2 separate regions of the Homo sapiens genome follow, and region 1 is linked to region 2. A link means that fine-mapping ties the variant in region 2 to the expression of a gene that starts in the linked region. Tissue or cell type: prefrontal cortex. Region 2 holds a variant in brackets; the other region holds the start of a gene. All regions are shown on one strand. Distances are from middle to middle.

Region 1 (5,151 bases), 730 kb before region 2:
GCTCACTCCAGTGGGTTGCTTCACTGTGACTCAAGATCTGTCAAATGAGGACATAAGGGAATTTGAATAAAGCCAAGATACACTCCTAAAATAAACCAAATCTTCCAATAGACCTAACAGAAGATGTAACAAGAATCAAGAAGCTAACCTACTCAACATAAATTGATTCTAAAATACTTTTTAAAATGAATTATTGCTAATGCAAAAATTCAGGAAAGAAGTCTAGGAATTTGTTTTCCTAATGGCACATTCCATTTATCTGTTGGTAGAGGTCACTAAAATACATTACTAGGTGTCTATGTATCCCTCCCCTGTTCTCCTTTTATAACCTTATTCTTCAAAAATAAAAGGTAATTAAGTGAAAGCATCAATTAAATATGTCCTTCCTTTCTCAAAATAGATAAATACGAATATAACTGAATCTTTGTTTTATAGTATATGCCCACTACGCTGTACGGCAAACAACCATGGCAAATCCACTGCATTATGAACAAAAGTAAATTGTCGCCCCCAAAATATAACTATCCATTTCGACCCAACCAAAGGGAAAATAATTTTCCCAATCCTCCAATTATATGCCAAAAGAATTAGAAAATACAGGAAAAAAAGATTCATAGAAGCTTGTATAAATGTCAAGTGCCAACATTTCACTAATAACCAAGATTTCCTATTGTACTGACTTTTAATTGTATCAAATCATGAATCTTCTAGGGCACAGAAAACAAAGACTAAATGGTTCTGCCAATTTACAATGATCATATTTCACCTTTAGAAGTGTAATCGCCATGGAAGCAATGAATTCATCGAATTCATCTTTCTCTCTCCACTGATTAAACGGATCCTGCACTACAGGCATAATCGGCTAGTTTCTGCCACCACTCATACATAGGCCTCCAACGCACTCTACAAGCCAGGGCTACACTGCCTAGAAATCCGCACTGTGTCACTGCATAAGGCAGTTTCCCACTGCACACATCCAGAAGAATAAAGTCACCTAAGCACTCTTGTCAGATCTTAGCAAGGCTGCAAAATGACAGGAGTTGCTAACCAAATAGCAGGAAGCAAAAATCACCACCTTTAAAAATCATTTAAGCAGTTTTCCTTTCCGCCATCTCACTTCCCTCCTCCTCCTCCTCGTCATTCTCTCTCTCTCTCTCTCACACACACACACACACACACACACACACGCACGCACGCACGCACGCAATGCAGTTCATCCCCAGCTTTGCAAGTGACATGCTGGGAGCTCTCTCTGGACAGCCGGCCCAGAACTCATTCAGAGCCCTCAAATACAGACATTCTCACCTGAACACGCCAGGCAACTTCCACCCGCACCATCACCTCCACCCTCCCCGACACACACAGACTCGCCCTCGCAAGCTCTACCCATACCAATCCCCCAGCTGCAGAAAGCCCAGTAGGCTCACTGCAAGCGCAGCACGCGTTACCACTTATAAGCCGAGTTGGGCGGCCTAAGCTTCAGAAACCGCCTCTTCACGCAGCCCACCCCCACCACCCCGGCGCGGCTGGACCCCTGGCCCGCCAGGTGGGATGCGCTACCTTTAGACTGGCAATCTGCACAAAACTTGTTATCCTCCTCCAGCAGCAGGTTGGCCAGGACAGCCTGGTACCGATCCACGTCCTTCACCGACTTGCCTGTCATGGCCAGGGTGCCGGCGGGGGCAGAGGGCGACGCGCCCTCCTCGCCCCCAGAGACCCCTGCCTCAGTCCGGGGTTGAGGACTCCCGGTCCCCCGCCCAGGGGCACCTCCTGAGCGGGGAGAGCCCTCTCCTCCGGCCCCGCCGGACGCCCCTTCCCGGGTCGGGGGCGTCCGTCCCCCACTCCGCAGCCCCTCGGCGCGGCGCCCCTTGGCGGGCTTAGGGACAGGCCCGCCTCCAAGAGAGGCTGCGGGGCCAGAGACCCTCAGCCCAGGCAAAGGCGGACCACGAGCCTCCTGGGTGCCGGACGCAGATGACCCTCTGGCCGGCCTGTCTGCTGGCCTTGCGTCCCGCGCCTCGGTTTCCCTGGCAGCTGCCGTCAGCTCCGCTACCACCTCCACCGCCTACTTCCGGCAGCTCTTCCTCCCCACCTCCACCCTGCCCAGCTCGCGCATGCGCCCCGCCCCCACCGCGCCGCACTGGGCTCTTCCTTCAGCTCCGCCTCTCGGGAACCAATCCGTGGAGAAGCGGGGGGCGGGCCTTGGGTGGGGGCGGAGGGAAGGGGTGGGCACGCCCCCTGCGTGTCCTTGGAAGAGAATGAATGGAGCCTGGTAGAAAGGGAGTGGAGGGAATGGAAGAAAGTGAAGGAAGACAACAACTAACATTTACTGAGCTCTTACTATGCGCTAGGCACTGTGTTAAGCGCTTTGCATGAACTATCCCAACATAATCCTCACAACGACCCTATGATCATCCTTATGTAACCTGAGGGTTGTTGATACCCCAAAGTCCTCCAGCTTGTTTTTTCCAACAGCCAAATATAAGAGTCCAAGCCCCTAACCCAGGATATAGGAACGTCACCCCCTCCCCACATTTTCAGAGGACTCTGGTCACCTCTCACTTGGAATACCTGCTCCCACTAATACTCATTAGCTCTCCTCTGTGACTCCTGCCTTTTTGGATATTGTTTGGCCTGGTGCCCAGACAGTTTGTTTCTTCTTCCATTTCTTAAATTCTCACAAAACAGCGAGTTTTTTGTGGCAGACTTTTACTGAACGTTATTTGGGAAGGGTGGGGGACAGTGATTAAAGCATAGCACACAACAGGCAACTCCTTAAAAATGATTATTAAACATCATCATCCAAAGCCACCGTTGCTACAGATAATTTCTCATTGGCTGTCCTTTTCCTTAGGGATCCACCTGCCATCTGGCTTGTGTTTTCATTCACTCATTCATTCATTCATTCACTGAGCACGATGTTACTGAGAAATTTCTAAGTATCAGGCACTGTACTAGGGGAGAGGGAAACAGCATGATCCGATTTGTGGTTTTAAAAGGTCACTCTGGCTGCCATGGAAATAATTAATCAGGGAAGATAGTAAGCAGATGCTAAGAGTTATCTAAACTCTGGTGAAACCCTCTCCTCCATTTCTTTACTTTCTCCCAAGACCAGGATCCCCTCAAAGCTTTCATCTCATCAGAGGAAAACTAAACATTTCTATTACTTTATTAATCACAACAATTAAATTTTCTGGCTAAGCCTCTTCCCTTCTAGCCATGCCTAGGGGACTTGACTTTTAAAAACACACAAGTTCATTGGGGTGTTTTTCCTCAGAAAACCCATCCAAGTAGGTATTACCATAACCATTTTTCAGTTGAAATAGACAGTCAAGATTAACTAGTTACTGGGTGTGGTGGCACATACCTGTAGTCCTAGCTACTCAGGATGCCAGAGCCAGAGCATCACTTGAGCCCAGGAGTTGGAATCCAGCCTGGGCAACACAGTAAGAACCACCCCTCCAACCCCCAATGTACCCCGTTACCCTGTCTCAAACAACAACAACAACAACAAAACCCAGTTAATTGCGGTGAGTGGTGATTGTACCTTAGTTCAAGCCCTCCCCATCTTCATCTCCTCACTCTGCAAATAGCCTTCCTGCCTTAGTCTAAATCTGGTTAAATTAATCCTTCACCGTGCTCTCTAGAGGGAGCTTTTAAATGCCAATTCTGATGGACTCACACTTCCTGCTTAAAAAATCCTTTAGTGGCTCTCCATTGCCTATGGCAGTGTTTCTCAAATTGTTCCCACCTAGTGAGAGATCTCATGGCTTTGTGGTTAAGCACACAGACTCTGGGGCAAGAATGCTTAAGTTTAAATCTTCAGCTTTTACCACCTATTATCTGTGTGACTTTGAGCAGGTTACTTAGCCTCTTGGTGCCTCAGTTATTTCATCTATAGAATGGGAATGATGATAACATTAATAGTACCTATTTCACAAGATTATTATGAGGCTTAGCTGAGATAATGCCTGTAATATAATTAGAACAGCCCTTGGTAGATAGTGAATGATAGACAATTAGCGCTCTTCACTAAATATTTCTGGCGTTTTGCCTTCTGAGCACATGGTAGGATTTTATTTCCTGGCCTTCAAGTGATTGGGAAAGACCAATGAGTTTGAGCAGAAAGGATGGATTACTTTGTCTCTGAAGCATTTATTTGTTGCTTTGAGCCTCTTGTGCTTCTCTTTCCCTCTGGCATGGCAACTATTGATGCTGAAGATGTTGGTTGCTCTATTAGCCTGGATTTCTGTGTAGCTGATAAACAAGAGCTCTCTGCCAGCCCATAGAGGATAACTTAGCATAAGCAAGAAATAAGCATTGTGTTGCCATTGAGTTTTGTTTGTTTACCACTGTATAAGCTAGCCTATCCTAGCAGATACATCAAGTATTAGCTCTTTTTATTATCATTACTAATAGCAGAGTAAAGTGAGTGCATAGCCCAGGGTCTGAGGATATAAACAAAGCAAACTGCTCCTCCCAAGTACACATTTTTTTTTTTGAAGTCTTGAATTTTGCTTTGACTAGTCTTGCAAAAATGTTCACTCTGTTCCATCATGCACATGTTATCTTATCATAAAACTGTTTCCACATTAGTTATAAAATTTTTTTTTTTGAGACCGAGTCTCGCTCTGTCGCCAGGCTGGAGTGCAGTGGTGCGATCTCGGCTCACTGCAACCTCCGCCTCCCAGGTTCAAGCAATTCTCCTGCCTCAGCCTCCCAAGTAGCTAGGACTACAGGCACGTGCCACCACTCCTGGCTAATTTTTTGTATTTTAATAGAGGCAGGGTTTCACCCTGTTAGCCAGGATGGTCTCAATCTCCTGACCTCGTGACCCGCCCACCTCAGCCTCCCAAAGTACTAGGATTACTGGCATGAGCCACCGCGCCTGGCCAGTTATAGAATTTTCTTTTCTTTTTTTTTTTTTTTTATTATACTTTAAGTTTTAGGGTACATGTGCACATTGTGCAGGTTAGTTACATATGTATACATGTGCCATGCTGGTGCGCTGCACCCACTAACTCGTCATCTAGCATTAGGTATATCTCCCAATGCTATCCCTCCCCCCTCCCCCTACCCCACCACAGTCCCCAGAGTGTGATATTCCCCTTCCTGTGTCCATGTGATCTCATTGTTCAATTCCCACCTATGAGT
Region 2 (5,151 bases):
TGCACTAGCTCCTTGGGACAGATATGTCATGTATCCCATGTCTTCAGCCACCAAATCTCTCCTCCAGCCCAGACCTCTCCCTGGGTTCTCCTCCTGGGTGTGCGCTAGGTCTCACAAACAGCATGGCCATAGTGAGCTCCTTCCCTTCTCCAGTGTTTCCCCTTGGTGCTTGTCACCTTCATCCATTCAGTCACCCAGACAGGAACCCAGTATCACTCGAATCCAGTCCTTATTGCCTGGCCTATTTTAAGAGTCTCCTGATTGGTCCACCCAGCTCTAATGCAGGTTGCAGTGGTTACCAGCATGAATTCTGGCGCCAGACTGCTTGGTTAAAATCCTATTTCTACCACTTAGTAGCTGTGTGATCTTGGGTAAGTTATTTAACCTCCCTGTATTTCAGGGTAACTTATGAAGAAAAGAGGTTTAATTGGCTCACGGTTCTGCAGGCTGTACAGGAAGCACAGTAGCATCTGCTTCTGGGGAGGCCTCAGGGAGCTTCCAGTCATGGTGGAAGGCAAAAGGGGAACAGGCACGTCACATGGCAAAAACAGGAACAAGAGAGGAAGCAGGGGAGGTGCCACACACCTTTAAACCACCAGATCCATGAAAACTCACTATCATGAGAACAGTACCAAGGGGATGGGACTAAACCATTCATGAAAAATCCACCTCCCTCACCTCCCACCAGGCTCCACCACCAACATTGGGGATTACAATTCAACATGAGATTTGGATGGGGACACAGATCCAAACCATATCACCATTCTATTGATATTCCATGCTTGTTCCTACCTCAGGGCTTTCCACTTGCTGTTCCTTCTGCCTGGAATCCTCTTCCCCAGATCTTCTTAGATTCCCTCTCTCCATTCGGGTCTCTGCATAAGTGATTCATCCTCAGAGACGATCTCCTGACCCCTAAGTAAAATAGCCACCAATCCCCCAGTCACCCTATGTCTCCACCTCACTTTATCTTATTTCACAGCATCTATTAATATCACTGACATTACATTATATGTGTTGCTATATGTTTGTCATCCTAAGCTCTGGCCCCTGCAATGTGAGAATGGCCCAATACAAATGGCAAGAAGGCTGTCGTGGGTGAGTGGACAAGGCAGAAAGTGGTTGGGGATGAAGCTGGAGAGATGGGCAGGGGCCTGAGCTTAGGAGATGGTACCTCCAGTGTGCCCTGAACTGCCCTGGCATGATTATTAGTATTGCCTCCTTTCACTCTCAAAGGTGCCCAGGTTATTACAGTTGTTCTGTGTATAGGGCATGGTAAGCAGTTGGCATTTTATTTCAAATGGGATGTGAAGCGTGTGGATGGTTTTGAGCAGGAAGTGACATGATCTGACTGGCATTTTAAAAGGATCATGACCAAGTCCTTGAAACACTCTTTTGGCTCCTGCCCACACCCCCCCACACACACCCCACTCTCCTCCACTGCCCTTTCAGTCTTCTCTGGCAGCTCTTTCTCTTCTACAACCTTTAAATCTTGGAGTTTCTCCAGACTAGCGGTTCCCAACTGGGGGCGATTTCTCCCCCAAGGGACATTTGGTATTTTATCTGGAGATATTTCTGATGGTCACAACTGGAGCGGGTATAACTGGCATCCAGTGGATAGAGGCCAGGGAGGCTGCTTACCATTCTACAATCCACAGAACAGCCCTACACAATAAAGAATGACCTGACCCAAAATGCCAGTAGTCCTGAGGTTAAGAAACCCTGCACCAGATTAGCACCATCCAATAGGAATATCATGGGAGCCAAATATGCAGTTTAACATTTTCTAGTAGTCACATTTTTAAAAACCTAAAAATAAAACAAGGGAAGTTAACTTTACTAATGTATTTTATTTCATCCAATATTTATACAATATTATCATTGCAACATGTAATCATAACAAAAAATATCAATGAGATAGTTCACACTTAAAAAAATTCTGGTGTGTATTTCATACTCACTGCACATACAGCAATTCAGACCAGCCACATTTCAAGTACTTAATAGCCATAG[G/A]GGGTTCGTGGCTATTATATTGATGGCATAGCTCTAGGCTCAGTACTGGATAATATATCACAATGTTTAAGAGCTGTATAATTGACGGGGTGTAGTGGCTTACTCCTGTAATCTTAACACTTTGGGAGGCCAAGGTGGGAAGATTGCTTGGCCCCAGGAGTTGAAGACCAGCCCGGGCAACATAGTGAGATCTCATCTCTACCAAAAAAAATTTTTTTTTTTTTTTTTTTTTTTTTGAGACGGAGTCTTACTCTGTCGCCCAGGCTGGAGTGCAGTGGCGCCATCTTGGCTCACTGCAAGCTCCGCCTCCCGGGTTCACGCCATTCTCCTGACTCAGCCTCCCGAGTAGGTGGGACTACAGGTGCCTGCCACCACGCCTGGCTAATTTTTTGTATTTTTTAGTAGAGATGGGGTTTCACCGTGTTAGGCAGGATGGTCTCGATCTCCTGACCTTGTGATCCGCCTGCCTCAGCCTCCCAAAGTGCTGAGATTACAGGCGTGAGCCACCACACCTGGCAAAATGTTGTTTTTTTAATTAGCTGAGCATGGTGGTATGCCCCTGTAGTCTGAGCTATTCAGGAGGCTGAGGTGGGAGGATCACTTGAGCCAAGGAGTTCAAGGTTTCAGTGAGCTACGATGGCACCACTACACTCTAGCCTGGTGACAGAGTGAATCCTTGTCTTTATTTTTAAAAGAAGGGGGAGTACTGTATAAAGTAATAAAGCCTAATGTTTTGGCTCTGGAACTGAACTGCCTTGTTGAATTCCAGCCCTTCCATTTATTGCCTGTTGGCCTTAGGTGGAGTTAGTCTACCTCTCAGCCTTTGTTTCTCACTTGTAAAGTGGGGATTATAATATTACTACTTTATAGGGTTGTCAAGGATTAAATGAGTTAATATTTACAAAAGACTTAGAATAGTTTCAGGTTTTATAATAAGGGCTCACCAAATGTTAAGTATTTAGCTAGGCCCCTGCTCTGTCTCCATCCACGTTTTCTGAATGATCCCATCTGCTCCCATAGCTTTAAATGCCATCAATTACCTAATGACGTCCAAATTTAATATCCAGCTGAGACCTCTGTTCTGAACTCCATACCCTCTATTTAACTGTGCACTGTATTTTGATGATCCAAGACATCTCACATGAAACGTCCATCACGGGGCCCTTGACCTTCCCCTGCAAATCTGCTCCTCTTCCAATCTTTGCTATCTCAGCCAATTACACAGGGCAGCTATCTGGGAGGCTTCCTTGACTTCCGCCTTTCCAGGGAATGCATAACACATTGTGCAACTTCTCTGTTAGTTGAGGTTTCCACTGACTGGCATGTGCCCACAGAAGTGATGTGAGTGCTGAGGGCATTTGGAATGAGAGTCCATAGTTGTGGCTGGGGCGACCACCAGGGCTTCCTGGTACTGATTGCTCACGACAGTTGCGCCTACCAGTATATATTTGTAAGTCTGTCCGTGTGTATGTGTTTGCATACCTGGCCAAATGGTTGTGTCTGTGGATGTGTGTGGACGGGGGCACAGGAACATTCTTTCCCATCAAGTAATCAAGTGTCCCCCAGCAAGCAGGCCTTGCTGTGGGGATGGAAGCACAGTTATTCTCAGATGACCAACCCGATTCTCCCACTTGAAGGGGTGGCTTCCCTCAGGTCCTGACCTGGTGGCGGGTAAAAAGGAAAAGACCTCTCATATCTAACCCAGCACACCAAGACCTCCTCTATCTCCTCTTCCCTGCCCAAGAAGTCCAGCTCCAGGATGCTCTCATGCAGCTTCCTTTGGAGCCTTAGGAGCTTCTCTGAGGTACTGGGCGCCTGAGGATGACCGGTGAATCTGAGAACTTCCCACAAGTCCCCCTAAGGACAGGGCAGCTAGAGCCCTCCCTGAGTGAACAGTTTGATGGGTTGCCAGAAGCAGAGGCCCCAGGAAGAGAGGCTGGAAGGTATCTTCCCTTTTCCTCTCCTTCTCCCACTTTGAGGCCCTGCCATAGCGTCTAGAAGGAGCCCTTTCCTGGCCTCCTGGCCGCCCAGGACAACTCGACCTCTGGTGAACTGGGAACTGATTCCCAGGGACAACCCACCACTGCCACCACGCCAGGCCTTTAGGGACCTCGGCCAGAGCCCAGCTTTCTCAGATGCGGTGGCCACAACTTCAGCCGTCCCTTTTGGGGGTGACTGCCACCTCTCAGAAGTGTAAGTGTCTTCCCCTTGCCCCCACCACACTATTCCACTTGCTTTGGGCCCCTATGGAGTTGCTGCTGGGGAATTCTTGCTGAGGATCAGGCCACAACCACCACGACTAACTTCGACAAACTTGATGTGTCTGCTGCCTCCAGAACACCAGGAGGCAGGAGCGCGCAGGGTTGACCCTTGCGGAATCCCGGGCATCGAAGCGGCGCCTCTACAGGCCAGCAGCGCCCAGGCGACCCAGGGACAGACGGGGACTCCTGGCTTCCCCGCGGGGCCTCCCAGGGCACCTGCCCAAGGCCACCCAGCGCGCGGCAGCCGAGACAGCGGAGCAGAGCCGGACCTCCCAGCCGTCGATGAAGGCGGCGACCGCCTAGGGCCTTCCCACGGCTCGGCGGCGCGTCACCGCGGGGGCGAGGGGGCGCCTGGGCGCCCGGAGCTGCGGCGCAGGAAAGGGCCCTGGGAAAGGGCGGTGGCGGCGCCCCCGAGGCGGGGCCGGGGCGGGGCCGGGGCGGGGCCTGACTTCCCGACTGGGAGCCTTAGCCGCGGGGCTGAGACCAGGCAGCCTGCGTTCGCCATGAAGCGACCCAAGGAGCCGAGCGGCTCCGACGGGGAGTCCGACGGACCCATCGACGTGGGCCAAGAGGGCCAGCTGAGGTAAGGGCCGGGATGCGGGGACCGAGCAGGCGGAGGGCGAGCGGGGTGGGGGTCGGCCCGACGGGCTCGCCGAGCAGGCGGGCCAGCCCTCCAGCACCGCCTGGGCAGAGGCAGGTGAGCGCGGGGGCCACAGGTGTCGGCGTAGGGGGCGTGTGCGGGCCGTGCCGTTACACGCACGAGTGCCTGGATCCTGCGCGCTCTCGGTCGTGCAGGGCTGGGGATGCTGGCAGGGAGGGAGAGTTCAGCTCGGGGGATCAGGTGGCTAGTGGGTTATCATCTATCTGTTGAAGTGGC

Alleles and levels. Alleles are on the strand shown, and positions count from the first base shown. SD is a standard deviation of normalised expression in the study named.
For the expression in prefrontal cortex of the gene that starts at base 2,057 in region 1, G is the low allele of the variant in region 2 and A is the other (moderate effect, 0.65 SD a copy in GTEx).

The links. PIP is the estimated chance that this variant, and not a neighbour inherited with it, causes the effect.
Region 1: it holds the start of SMAP2, and the variant in region 2 is fine-mapped to the expression of SMAP2 in prefrontal cortex (GTEx, PIP above 0.99).

What each region holds. Positions count from the first base shown.
Region 1 is chr1:40,370,633-40,375,783 of GRCh38, reverse strand. It overlaps SMAP2 (small ArfGAP2), which reads right to left and starts at 2,057. Exons shown (of 10, transcript NM_022733.3): 1 at 1,561-2,057. The coding sequence starts at 1,663. RefSeq lists an enhancer at 1,300-1,799 and silencers at 1,785-1,924, 1,995-2,314.
Region 2 is chr1:39,639,252-39,644,402 of GRCh38, reverse strand. It overlaps HEYL (hes related family bHLH transcription factor with YRPW motif like), which reads left to right and starts at 4,760. Exons shown (of 5, transcript NM_014571.4): 1 at 4,760-4,857. The coding sequence starts at 4,778. RefSeq lists silencers at 4,404-4,793, 4,914-4,983. The variant G/A (reference allele first, on the strand shown) is at 2,014.